Linked DNA regions of Homo sapiens. The protein of the gene in region 1 purifies or fractionates together with the protein of each later gene. This does not show direct contact. Each region holds a gene or a part of one and is shown on either strand. Other genes may lie near its edges.

Evidence for each region.
Region 2: the proteins of SERHL2 (region 1) and DAAM1 purify together in Homo sapiens (affinity purification with mass spectrometry; 2 studies listed by BioGRID and IntAct, with this or other methods). This does not show direct contact.

Annotation. Positions count from the first base shown.
Region 1 is NC_000022.11:42,555,736-42,564,812, forward strand, and holds part of SERHL2 (serine hydrolase-like protein 2), read left to right. Parts: intron 1-312; exon of another isoform or gene 313-328; coding exon 329-348; intron 349-778; coding exon 779-853; intron 854-2,612; coding exon 2,613-2,722; intron 2,723-4,450; coding exon 4,451-4,530; intron 4,531-7,653; coding exon of another isoform or gene 7,654-7,734; intron 7,735-9,077. UniProt on the Homo sapiens protein: Probable serine hydrolase. May be related to cell muscle hypertrophy.
Region 2 is NC_000014.9:59,366,667-59,371,903, forward strand, and holds the end of DAAM1 (disheveled-associated activator of morphogenesis 1), read left to right. Parts: intron 1-762; coding exon 763-933; intron 934-1,983; coding exon 1,984-2,193; 3' UTR 2,194-4,737; downstream 4,738-5,237. UniProt on the Homo sapiens protein: Binds to disheveled (Dvl) and Rho, and mediates Wnt-induced Dvl-Rho complex formation. May play a role as a scaffolding protein to recruit Rho-GDP and Rho-GEF, thereby enhancing Rho-GTP formation. Can direct nucleation and elongation of new actin filaments.

The DNA of each region.
Region 1 (9,077 bases):
CCGGAGTAGGGCTGGGAGGGAAGGATAGGAGCTGCTGCCCCACCCCTTTCCCCTGCACTTATGAGATCTGCAAAGAGAGATGAGAGGGTCAGTCAGAGGTTGACCACTGTACCCTCTGACCTCAGGCAACTGCCGCAAGGGACACAGGGATGAGGGAAATGTGGTCTTTTGAGTGGTCAGGTCTGATGAAGGGGACATCATGGCCCAGATGCTGAGCCCCCAGCCACCCATATGGTGCCCCCCCCCCCCAACTGGTGGGAAGAAGCTTTAGGGTATGCAGCTGGGGAGGGAGTGAGGGAATGTCACCCACAGCTCTTTTGTCCCCCAGGTGGCGTCGTGGGCGGAATGGTGAGTAGATGGCTTTGTCTGGCCAACTGGGGCTCCCTTGGGTGGAGTGGGGAGGGGAGCACAAAGGAGGAAGGAGAAGGTACCTGGGACAGAAAGTGCCTCCTCCTGTCACAGTGACAGTCCTTATACCAGGAAGTTGGTGTAAACGGTGGAGACTCCTGGTAGAGTTCATGTTTCCACGCCCCCATACCCGGTCCCACCGCACCCTGGAGTCCAGCCATCACCAAGGTCTGGAGCTCAGTGCTGGGTGCAGACTTAGGGGTGGTGGGGGAAGGCACACCATAGATAGAAGATTCTCCTCTGGCCTCTTGGTCAGCACCCTCCCCCCAGCCTAAAAGATGTTTCGGGGAACTCCAGGGTCCCCAGGGAAAGGCGGGAGTGTCCTTTCCTTCTTCCCCCTATTCATTCTCCCCTTTTGGCATCCTCACAGTTTTTCTGTACCTTCCCCGAGATGGTGGATAAACTTATCTTGCTGGACACGCCGCTCTTTCTCCTGGAATCAGATGTGAGAAGCGGGCTTTCGTGCATGCTGTCATTAGGGAGGACCTGGGCCCCGGGCAGCGCTCCCAGCCCTGTCTCCTTTGGTGGACACTAGGGAAGCACGAGGAGGCGGCAGAGGGTGGGAAAGGGGAGTCAGGGACCCGCTCCCCAACAGATGACAGGCTTCTGCTGCTTATACCCCTAGCAGTGGTCAGGACAAGGGGTGTGGGGGACCCCTTGGAAACTGGATGTGTGGCTCGGGATCTGCAGAATGCCAGGCTGATCACGCAGTGGCAGGCAGTGGAAGAGGGCAGCGGCCATGGGTGGAAGATGTTCTAGGGCACACAGCTGGGCCGGCACACTGCACTCACACCCAGTCGAATGCCTTTGCACTGTGTCCACATTGCACCACCACACATGACAGCCCTAAATGTGAACTGAAGGAACAAGGACTGACCCCTCTGACCACCACTACCCATAACCAGTACTGTCTCTGCGTCTGAGTCCTGGCCTGGTTTACCTGCTGGGTGACCCCTGGCAAGTTACTTTGCCTCTCTGGGCCTTAGTTCCCGCACGTGTAAAATGAGGTTGGGCTCAATGACCTGGCCAGCTCTGACATCCTGTCATTTTCTTGCCAAGGTCTCAGCCTATCAGTTGTGACACAAGTCTCATCAGTTTCAGTTTTCTTGTCCATAGAATGACCACAGATCGGCCAGATGCGGTGGCTCACGCCTGTAATCCCAGCACTTTGGGAGGCCGAGGCTGGCGGATCACCTGAGGTCAGGATTTCGAGACCAGCCTGACCAACATGGAGAAATCCCGTCTCTACTGAAAGTACAAAATTAGCTGGGCGTGGTGGCACATGCCTGTCATCCCAGCTACTTGGGAGGCCGAGGCAGGAGAATCGCTTGAACCCAGGAGGCGGAGGTTGCAGTGAGCCGAGATTGCGCCATTGCACTCCAGCCTGGGCAACAAGAGGGAAACTCCGTCTCCCAAAAAAAAAAAAAAAAAAAAAAAAAAGAATGACGGCAGATCCCATAAGGATAAGGATCATGTCCATCTCTGTCACCACATCCCCAATCCTGGCACCTAGTAAGGGCTCAGTAAATGTTCCTTGCATGAGCTCAGCTAGCTCAGGGGCTATTATAAGGATCCAATTTACAGATGGCAGACAGCAGACACTCCCTTCTTTCTGCATTTCACCCACTGAATTGACAAGTGCAGTGCCCCCAGGGGCTTCCTCCTGGGCGAGTCAAGAGGGGCATTTGGTCCTCTTGTCCTGCATTCTCAGGCATGGGTAGATGGGAGATGCCCCCCTCTGCAGCCCCAGGCAGTGGGCCTGAGGCTGTCCTCACAGAGTGAGCCACACATCATGGGGGAGCTTGGAAGCCCCAGAAATGCGCCCTTTCTGCCAGTCCCTTTCTGCCACTGAGAATGATGGCATTCGTTGAACCAGATGAAACTGCCAACCCCAGATGGTTCGTGGCCTCCGGACCCTAATTTCATGCCTTTGCAAAGCACTTGGCAGTTGACAGAGATTCCCCTTCCTCTCCATCATCCCACCTGATCTCTTCAACTGTCCCTGGCCGCAGGCAAGACCAGGCTGGCTGTGACTGAGGCGAAGCAAAGACTCGTTCAGAATCGTGGGGCTGACTAGCCAGGGCTGGGGCTGTGTGCCCCTTTGCCGAGAGGGGCTCAGCTGAGAGCAGAGGGCAGGGCTAGGAGGGGCAGAGACCTCGTCTGCAGCCTGGATCCCTGCCCACCAGCCAACTGTGCCTCCTTAGGAAATGGAGAACTTGCTGACCTACAAGCGGAGAGCCATAGAGCACGTGCTGCAGGTAGAGGCCTCCCAGGAGCCCTCGCACGTGTTCAGCCTGAAGCAGCTGCTGCAGAGGTGGGTGCCCGGTGTGGACGGGGAGCTGGTGGGGTCCAGGGGAGGACATCCCGTGAGACGTGGAGAAGCTTCTTTCTCCCTCTCACCCAACAAGCCTGTTTCTCCCTGGGGTCACGCTGAGCACCAGGCTTCCCAGGGTCTTCAGGGACGTTCTCTCTTTCCCTCTGCCCCTGCTCCAGCCATGCCCCTTACTTCCAATACCCTCCCCACACCTCTCACGCACCCGCCTCTCTCCCAAGCACATGCTGCTTCCACGCCTTCTCTCCCCTCTGGGACTCCAGCCTGGGCTCCCTTACCTGGAATTCTCCCCTGTGCTTGCTCACTGGCTTCCCCACTCCTTGGGGCCTCAGCTGGGAACCCTGCCCTGACACCCCCAGGCAAGCTGTCCCTGCCCTGCAGGTAACCACACTGTCCAATAAGAGCCTATTGATTCCTCTGTTTCCCGAGGCATGTGAACTCCGCAACCCCCACTATGGCTGATTTGGTCATCTTTGTGCCTCCTGCATCTGGCAGTGGGCCTGGTAGGTCAGAGCTCCACACATATTTGTTGTCTGAAGGAGGAGAAGCCCCCCACTGCCCCACCACACGCACGCGCACACACACCCACACACACACACCCTGCCGCTGTAAACATGCAATCGAAACACGGGACACAGGCCAGGCGCAGTGGCTCACACCTGTAATCCCAGCACATTGGGAAGCTGAGGTGGGAAGATAGCTTGAGCCCAGGAGTTAGAGACCAGCCTGAGCGAGATAGCGAGACCCTGTATTTAAAAAAAAAAAAAAAAAAAAAAAAAAATTAGCTGGTCGTGGTGGCACACGCCTGTGGTCCCAGCTACTCAGCAGCCTTAGTTGGGAGGAGTGCTTAGCCCCAGGAGGTCGAGGCTGCAGACAGCCATGATCATGCCACTGCACTCCAGTCTGGGTGACAAAGTGAGACCCTGTCTCAATTAGAATACAAGGTCCAGGCACGGTGGCTCATGCCTGTAATCCCAGCACTTTGGAAGGCGGAGGTGGGCAGATTACGAGGTCAGGAGATTGAGAACATCATGGCTAAGATGGTGAAACCCTGTGTCTACTAAAAAATACAAAAAATTAGCCAAGCGTGGTGGTGGCGGGCGCCTGAATATCTATCCAGAAGAGGCGTTAGACATTCTCTAGATGTAACGAAGAATGGCATGAACCCGGGAGGCAGAGCTTGCAGTGAACCCAGATTGCGCCACTGTACTCCAGCCTGGGCAACAGAGCAAGACTCTGTCTCACAAAGAAAAAAAAAGAAAAAAAAATCACGAGACACATGCACGCTTTGTGGGTGACCTCCCTTTTGCTGCCCTTGTCTCCATTTTTTTGTTGTTGTTGTGTTTTGTTTTTGGAGACCAAATCTCGCTCTGTTCCCCAGGCTAGAGTGCAGTGGCACAATCTCAGCTCACTGCAACCTCTGCCTCCTGGGTTCAAGTGATTCTCATGCCTCAGCTTCCCAAGTAGCTGGGATTACAGGCACATGCCACCATGTCCAGCTAAGTTTTGTATTTTTAGTAGAGATGAGGTTTTACCATGTTGGCCAGGCTGGTCTCAAACTCCTGACCTCAGATGATCCGCCCATCTTGTCCTCCCAAAGTGCTGGGATTACAGGCATGAGCCACCGTCCCCCCCGGCCCTCCTCTCCTTTTTATCTGACCTCCTTTTTATTGGCCTCCAGGCACCCAGCATCCTTCTGTCTCCCCCCAGGTTACTGAAGAGCAATAGCCACTTGAGTGAGGAGTGCGGGGAGCTTCTCCTGCAAAGAGGAACCACGAAGGTGGCCACAGGTAAGGGACTCTACTGTCCAAGGCCATTTTATATTTGTCACTATTCTTACCGAGGATGTCAAGGACTTGCCTTAGACCAGGCAGGATACTAAGCGCTTTGCAAACAGCATCTCACTGAATCCCCCTCCTGCCTCACCCTCATCCCATTTAGAGCAGGAGAAACCAAGGCTCAGCATTGCCAAGCAACCCGGGTGAGGCCATACAGTTACTGCACATCCCAGAAAGCCACGCTCTGGGAGAGTTTGGTCAGGTGTCTTGGACTAAATGTTGGTGAATGTCACGGCCATGCTCTGCTGGATCTGGGGTGGGTGCCCAGCGCCAGAGGCAGGCTGTGAGGACGTCCCAGGGGCTGAGTGACTTGGGAGAGGCTTTTCACAATGGAGAGGTGGAGCTGGTATGTCTTGGTTTCAGAGCAGCTTCTGGCACAAGCGATTTGTGTACTTTGCTTTTTACCCAGGAATTTTTTTTCTTTCGTTCTTTTTTCTTATGAGACAAGGTCTCGCTCTGTCACCTAGGCTGGAGTGCGGTGGCACCATCATGGCTCACTGCAGCCTCCACCTCCCGGGCTCCAGAGATCGTCCCACCTCAGCCTCCTGAGTAGCTGGGACTACAGGTGTGAGCTACTGTGCCTGGCCCAGGAAATCTTTTGTAAGGGCCTGCTACAGGCCCGGCTCAGTGAGGCTGCAGTGAGCAAGAGCCGACTGTCCCTCTCTCAGTGGGGCCAGACCTCCCGCACCACAACTCCAGGGGCTGCTGTGCACAAATGGCGCCCCCTGGAGTTGAGTAAGGAAGAGTCTGGGCAGAGGCCTAGATTCTTGGAAGAGAAGCAGATGATACACAGGTGAACAGGCACATGAGTGGTTAGACATTCTCTAGATGTAATGAAGGAAATACATGGTGCTCTAGAAGAGACTCATGGCGGGGCCTGCTTCAGAGCAGTGGTCCAGGAAGCAGCTCTCCCAGGGTGAGGGAACAGCTGGAGGGAGATGGTGTCGTCGGATGGAAAATGTGCTAAGCTGGGCAACACAACTTTGCTTCCTGACACTGCCAGCTCAGTGATCTTGGGACAGTCCCTTCCCTTTTAGACTCCCCTTGTTTGCTCAGGTGACAAACAAGGTCTTGGGTTTTTTGCGCTCATTGGACCAGGTGAGGTGGGCATGTGCCTTCCCTTTATAAAGTGCTGAGTGAGGCAGGGGGTCAGAAACTCCAGCACCTGGGGGCGGGGGTGGGGGCGTGTTGTGGAGTTGAGGGTGCAGGCCGGGAGGGAGGCTATGGGCTGTGTAGGGACTTTGGAGCTGGAGGCAGCCCACCCTGGTAGGCAGCTGGGCCGGTGCTAATCAAGTGGGAATTCAGTCTCGTGTGGCCAGAATTACCAGTTGCTCAGCTCTGCAGTTGATCTGCTGAGGTGAGTATTTTTAGTTGTCTTGAGTCCAGAAATGGACAGCATCCCCCGAGGGTCTAAGGAGCGGCACCTGTGGGCTGTTTTGGCCTCGGGTCGCCAGTTTGGGACCAGTTGGGTCTTCGTGATCATCTTGGCTGAACCTTTATCTTGCCTCCCTGGAAACCCATCATGGGGAGGGGAGGTCAAGGACCCCGGGCCCAGGCTTCCTGGACATGCCTCACGGATGGCTGACCTAGGGAGCCCCAGGCACAGAAGTGAGCTAATCTGGAATGAGGCCGGGGAATTCGATTAGGCCCAGGTCACAGGAAACAGTGAATGCAGGATGCTGACCAGGCACCCCTATGTGGGTGTCAGGGGGGTGAGGGAACAGGCAAGAGGGAGGGCTGAGAAAGAGGTGAACCCTGGGTCTGGGGGAAGTGGTCAGCTGGCTGGAACGTTGTGTGCAGACAAGCCCTCTGCAGCAGTTGTGGCCTTTTGGGACCCAGCATTAACCTAAAAGAAGACAGTACCCAGCCAGAACCCCCCACCCAGTGCCTCAAGGACAATGTAGGTTCCTCCCAAATGCTTCCCTCCAACCCCAGGGCCCCTGAGAGTTCACATTCTATTCTGAACTGGGATAACTTCCCTTCCCTGCCCCCATCATCCAACCTGATTCCTCCAGAATCTGGAGCTTAAACAACCAAGACACATTCCCCCACAGTTCCGGAGTTCAGGGTCCAAGGTCAAGGCCTCGGCAGGGCTGGTTCCTTCTGAGGGCTGTGAGGGAGTATCTGTTCCCACCTCTCTGGCTGCTGGGAGCCTCAGGAGCCCGTTGGCTTGTGTGTGAGGTTCTCTGGGTGGGTTACAGAGTGCGTGAGAAGGGGAGGGCTCGTGGAGGACGCAGAGTGGGGAGGGCAGCGAGCATTGTTGGAGAGGCTGCAGCTCCACTTCCTCTTTTGAATAGGAAGGTCTGGGTGGGCCTCATGAGAAGGTGACTTTTGAGCAAAGCAGTGAAGGTACGGGAGCTGCTCCTACGGACTCCAGGAGGAGAAAGGAGCTGGCAGGACAGGCCTGGAGGTGTGAGCTGGTGGTGCAGGATGGGGAGAGAGCAGCAGAGATGAGCTCTTTATCTTCTCATCTAAGTTTAAGCCCCACAATACTGGCTTTCTGGAAACCATCTTGAGGTGTTCCCATGAAGGAGGGAGGGGCCCACTCTGCCTGGGGTGCCCTAAGGACAGAGGGACAGTCTGTGTCAGTCTGGCCCCTGGCCAAGCGTATTCACACATGCCTGTAATCCCAGCACTTTGGGAGTCCAGGTGGGAGGACTGTTTGAGGCCAGGAGTTCAAGACCAGCCTGGGCAATATAGGGAGACACCCCCATCTCTACAAAAAATTCAAAAATAAACGGCATGGTGGCACACCTGTGGTCCCAGCTACTTAGGAGGCTGAAGTGGGAGACTCACATGAGCTCAGGAGTCGGAGGCTGCATTGAACCTTGATTGTGCCACTGCACTCTAGCAAGACCCTGGCTTTTTCTTTTTTTCTTTTTTTTTTTTTTTGTTGTTGTTGTTGTTTTCAACAGGGTCTTGCTCTGTCACTCAGGCTGGAATGCAGTGGCGTGACCATGGCTCACTGCAGCCTTGGCCTCATGGGCTCAGGCGATCCTCCTACCTCAGCCTCTTGAGTAGCTGGGACCACAAGTGTGCAGACCACACCTGGCTAATTTTTGTATTTTTTTGTAGAGATGGAGTTTCGCCATGTTGCCCAGGCTGGTCTCGAACTCCTGAACTCAAGCGATCCTACTGACTCGACCTCCCAAAATGGTAGGATTACAGGTGTGAGTCACCATGCCCAGCCAACCCTGTCTTAAAAACAAAACAAAAATATCTGGCCCCTGAAGCCCCGTGCTGTGGGGGAGGCTCAAATCTTTCTCATAAGCTGGACTGCATACAGGTTGCAGATAATAATTTGTTTAACTTGTGCAGTTTAATCAAAAACATTTGGCATGGGGGGAATTTTGAATAGATTGCCCACATTTTATTTTTTATTATACTCTTTTTATTTTTTGGAGGAAGGGCCCAAGGACCAGAGCAGAAGGGCTATTATTTTAAATAGAAAGATTTTATGTAAAAATACAGATTTCTAGACCAGGCACAGTGGCTCATGCCTGTAATCCCAGCGCTTTGGGAGGCTGAGGTGGGTGAATCACCTGATGTTGGGAGTTCGAGACCACCCTGACCAACATGGAGAAACCCCGTCTCTACTAAAAATACAAAAGTAGTTGGGCGTGATGGCGCATGCCTGTAATCCCAGCTACTGGGGAGGCTGAGGCAAGAGAATCGCTTGAACCGGGAGGTGGAGGTTGCAGTGAGCTGAGATCATACCATTGCACTCTAGCCTGGGCAACAAGAGTGAAACTTCGTCTCAGAAAAAAAAAAGACAAGAAAAAACATGTCTTTTGTATGGCTTCTGGAATTTGAGTCATAGTTAAAAGGTCATGCTTGACACTAATATTATTTTGGGTCTAGCACTAGCATTTAAATATTTACTACATTGGATCCTTATCTAGTATACAAAGTGAGGTTTGCATCTGACTTCATCTTTTTCCAGATGGCTCCTCAGGTGCCTAATGCCATTTTTAGACAAGTCTATCTTTACCCTGTTCATGTAAGGGGCTGCCTTGGTCAGACAGTGAATGCCCATCTGTACTTGGGTCTGTCTCTGACTGCCTGTCTATGATCTTACTGTACCACACATTTTAAACTGAGGCCCGACACAGGATTTTTTTTTTTCTTTTTTTTTGAGACGGGGTCTTGCTTTTGTCGTCCAAGCTGGAGTATAATGGCACAATCTCGGCTCACCGCAACCTCCACCTCCTGGGTTCAAGTAATTCTCCTGCCTCAGTCTGCCAAGTAGCTGGGATTACAGGTGCCCACCACCATGCCTGGCTAATTTTTGTATTTTTAGTAGAGATGGGGTTCACCATGTTGGCCAGGCTGGTCTCGAACTCCTGACCTCAGGTGATCCACCTGTCTTGGCCTCCCAAAGTATTGGGATTTCAGGTGTGAGCCACCGCACCCGGCCTGAGGATTTTCGCATCTGACGGGACCGTCTCCCTTCATGGCTCTTTTACAGAGTTTTTCTACTAGTCTTTTTTCTTTTCCTT
Region 2 (5,237 bases), on another chromosome or scaffold:
GAGGAGTATTACAATTTTTACTTTAGAAATGATTAATAGACATGTTCAGCAGCTGAAGATAAATATAGGCTCACTAAAATCCATCAGTTATATTTGACTCAGCCGGGTGCAGCGGCACATGCCTATAGTCCCAGCTACTCGTGAGGCTTAAGAGGAAGGATTGCCCAGGAGTTTTTGGCTGTATTTTGCTGTGATCATACCTCTGAATAGCCACTAAACTCCAACCTGGGTAACATGTAAGACCCCATCTATTAAAAAAAAAAAAAACTAATAACATATGCATTCCAGCCTGGGCAACATGTAAGACCCCATCTCTTAAAACAAAACAACAAAAAAAAACTGCCGGGTGTGGTGGCTGAAACCTGTAATCCCAGCACTTTGGGAGGCCAAGGTGGGCAGATCACCTGAGGTCAGAAGTTGAGACCAGCCCGGCCAACATGGCAAAATCCTGACTCTACTAAAAATACAAAAATTAGCCAGGCATGGTGGTTTGTGCCTGTAATCCCAGCTACTTGGGAGGTTGAGGCTGGAGAATCGCTTGAACCCGAGAGACAGAGGTTGCAGTGAGCTGGGATCATGCCACTGCACTCCAGCCTGGGTGATGGCGAAACTCCATCTCCAAAAGAAAGAAAGAAATAAAAATAAATGAGCAAACAAAACTTACGTTTGACTCAATCTGGGCTTTGGTCTTTCTCAAGTTATTTATATTTGATTGTGGAATTCTCATGAAACATTGACTTCTTAAAACCATCTTTTTCCTAGTTTACTAAAGCAGTGAAGCACTTTGGGGAAGAGGCTGGCAAAATACAACCAGATGAGTTCTTTGGCATTTTTGATCAATTTCTTCAAGCTGTGTCAGAAGCCAAACAAGAAAACGAAAATATGAGAAAGAAAAAGGAGGAAGAAGAACGTCGAGCTCGCATGGAAGCTCAGGTGAGAGGATGATTAATTGACCAATTCCACCTCCTAGAAGTTCTATGACTGCAGCCCAGTCAAAGGTATTTAGAGAGCACTCTGACCTGGCAGGAAGGAAGGCTTCAATGTACTCTCTAGAATGCTGTGGGACTTTACATTGGTGTTGTTTCTCTTGGGCTATTTAACAGTGTATATTCAAAGCCTTAAAAAAAAAATCTATCCACATCCTTTGCTCTGGAATTCCATTTCTTAGCAATTATTTTAAAGAAATAATCATAAATTTACACAAAAAAGGGCAGCATTCTTTATAATAGCACCAAGCTAAAGACAACCTAAATGTTTACCAAAAGGGGATGAGTTCTAAATGATATAACAGCCATATAATGGAATATTTATGCAGTCCTTGAAAGACATGTATTCAAAGAATAATGATACAGAAAAAGATTTCTACATGAAATCTTTTTCTGTTTTGTTTTTTAAGGTGTGTTAATACATATAGAAAATAATAGTGGTGTGATAAACCTTTAAAAAGTTCACAGTAGTAGAATTAAAGATGTTTCCCCCACCTTCCTTTTATCTGAATTATCCAAATTGTCTACAATGTGTATGTATTAGTTGGCTTTTAATAACAGTAACTATTGTGTATCAGGTTTCAGGCTTCCACAGTAGACACAAGCTAAGCCTTTGATATAAGGAAAATGGCCTGATGACCATTTGCTTTAGTTATTTGGGGTCTATGTAATAGTGATACCTTTTTTTTAATTTTCATTAGCAGAAACACAAATTGCCTCAATTGCTCTTATTTTAACTAGAATATCATGCAGTTTACCTAGAATCTAGGTGGTGAGGGTCTAACCACAAGGGAGTGGTTGTTTTTTGTTGTCCATTGCTCCTGCAATGGAGACCCCATGTTCCAATTCCCCCTTTCTTGTGATATCCAAAGGGGGTTATAGGATGAGCATAGCTTGGTGTCTGGAGCATTACCATATTTCAAGGAATTGACCTCTACTGCAAACAAAATGCAACATTTTGACATGTCTCAAAGAGGTTATTTCTTTCTATTTGCAGCTCAAAGAACAACGTGAAAGGGAACGTAAAATGAGAAAAGCTAAAGAGAATAGTGAAGAAAGCGGAGAGTTTGATGACCTTGTTTCAGCTTTACGCTCAGGAGAAGTGTTTGACAAAGACCTTTCTAAATTGAAACGGAATCGCAAACGTATTACCAACCAGATGACTGACAGCAGCAGAGAGAGACCAATCACAAAACTTAATTTCTAATTTTCCATGAATACTTTTTTTTAGAAAGCTCATTAGCAGCCCTCTAAAGTGACTAGAACGTTTCATTACACTGCCTTGCAATCCAAACAGTGGCAATTTTTTCCTTCATCTGTGAGTGAATGTGTGAACGTGTGTATGTAAATGTATGTGTGTATATATTAAAAAATGTATATAGATGTCTGAGTGTTGTCTGGAGACCTATACGTATGGTTAAAAAGATTTATGTTAATGTATGTGCTCCAAAACCTTTCGTGTATGCATTCACATTGAGTGTGGCTCATTTTCTTTCCCCGAACGCCATGACTGTTCAGAAGCACAATACTATCTCCTGAAAGAGATAAGAGACATTCCCTAGATTCAAAGGCAAAACAGAAGAAACAAACAAACAAACAAAAAAAGCTTGCAAAATATTTTATGGTTTCCAAGCTTGATATCCTTTAAAATTATTTTCATTGATGGAACTGGAGTTGTTGGAAAAACATAGATTTAAAATGATTTTTGATAGCTGACATTGTGATGTTGATGTATCACATCAGTAATAGGACCAGCTTTGAATTTCTGACATTGGTGTGGGGATACAGTCTGTAAATGTTTATTGAGAACATCTTGCACACAATTTGAATTATGTAGAATGTCAATCAAGTTTTTGTATATTTAAAAGTTGGACATCAATTTTTTCCCCTGATTTCATCAAGTTATCTCTGCCAAGTGCTCTTGATAATTTCTTCAGATTTTTGGAAAAAAACACTATATAAATGCAATCCATGCTTTTTTTAAAGAACAACATTGCCAGAGTATGCTTGTTCTAACAATATAGATATATAAACCTTAAAAATAATAAAATATCTCACCCAAGACTTAAAGGAAGAATTCTCTGAAGGGATAAAGATTACTAAAAAAAAAAAAAAAAAAAAAAAATTAATGGGGTGCCTTTTTGTTATAGTTTCTATTTTCTGTTTTGTAGGACAAGCTGCATTTTCTGTAAATATAGGTCTGGACTAAAGGATACATAAAGAATGCACAAAATGTCAACATCAGCAGAGATGCCCAGATCTATTTATCTCTAAGTATATTTGAAGTGATTGCTGTTTATATGTTGTCATTTTAAAATTGTGTGTCAGTAAAGCTACCTGTAAAATTTCAGTCCAAAAAAATAAAGCTCTCAGGGAGACATGAATAAAATCAATGAACATTAGAAAATAAAATATAGATGCTTACCATTAACCTACCAACTCTTAATATCCTTAAATTATGTGATATATAAAGAGGACTGTTACTTTTTTACTTTTTTTTTTTTTTTTTTTTTTTTTTGGCTTTGCTTTATTTATTTGTAGTTGGGGGCTAACGTTTTCTCTTTTCTTTCTATTGATCCTGTTGTGGTTGGGTTTCCTGTGGAGAGAGTAGTTTGTCCTGTTGCACTAGAACATTATTTACTCACTAAATTGAGTTTTTCAGTCAATTAACAAATATTTATTAAGTTCCTACTATGTACCAGGCATAGTAGGGCTACAATGGTAAGCAAGACAGAGTCCCTGCCCCCAAAGAGCTTATATTCTAATGGGGATATTAAGGGATGAATAGAATACCAATGTGTGCACTGTACAGGAATCATACTATTTAAAAATAATTTGTATAAACTATAATGCTTAGCACAGATGGCGAGTTATCTGTGCTATGTGAAAGCTGTGAAATAGTGCTCTAAGAGTTGTCAAGAGCTGTGGTTTTACATCTTTTCCTCATTGCAAATTTAGTGACTTTCTACACACTATATGGAAATAAATGACTAGCAAATAAAACAGTCATAAATACAAAGCAGAGGTTGCACTCCCCCAATCCCGAGTTAACCCAGGTCTGCAATAACACCATGTTAAAGGTGCAGATAGAGACTTGGCTCAAAAAGGCTTGGAGATGAGGAAGATTGGAATATAATGATGGTTTTGTCTGTTCCTTAACTAAAGTGCCTCTATGTATATTCTTTTCTATTTGTAGCAGGATAAATTTGGTCTGGCTCAGTTTTGGAACTGTATTTTGAAAATGGCTTTGTCTTACAGTTTAAGGAATAGACAGGTGGAGGGAAAGTCACATAAAGGAGCAAGTTTGTGTAGCTGTCCCTCTTGCCCCTTTTAATCATCCTCCTTTGATATGGCCATCCTGGTGGGCCTCCTTTGCCATTTCCATTTTTGGTTTCTTTCCCTGAAAACTGTGTGCAGGTAATTCCATGTGCCATTGTTGAAAAGAAAAAAAAAAAACAAAAAAAAAACCTACTTTTTAGATTGGTGCTGGTGTAAGTAGCCACTTTTCTCTCTTGGGTGTGTATTTTAAACTTTTTTTGTTTTTTTAAATTAATGCCAAAAAGAAAATGCATAATTTGTAAACTTAATTATATGTCTTATATCTTATTAGCTTAGTAGTTGGAACCACTTAGTCTTTAGGTGCAAGACTGTTGTTAGATAGTACTGAGAAAAAAAAAGTATGTGTTATGAGACTGTACATGTTTTTTTAAAAATAGCAATATGCAATAAAGAGATGAATTCATTGGGTGTACATATATGCTTTCTATGAATTATTAAAACAGTGTCATCAAACTGCTTTGCAGTTTCCACCATTGAATTTCAATTTTGCAAATTGTTCACTGAATCGGAAATATATACCTGTTTTTAAACTTGTACTTACTGGACCTAGAAGAATATAGTTTTCTATTATGGCAGCATTCAGTATGTTCAGGTTATCATATGCCACCTCTTTCTATACTTGGTTTATGTATGAGTTATACAATTTCTTGTTATAACTCATGTATGGTAGGGCTACTGGTGAAATTATTCAACTAGAGTAGAGAAAATAATCTCTAGTCTCTAGAATCAAAGCCTTTTTGTTTTGAGGCATGTTTTTCTTATTAAAAATTAACTTGATATGGGTCAGTATGGGAAATGGCACCCATACAGATCAAGAAATTTGTTTATCAGTATCCTCTGAAAGTTGAAGCTTTCCCTTTGTCCTACATCACATTTGCTGCCTAGCCACCCTTAGCTCAATTTAAGTTCACG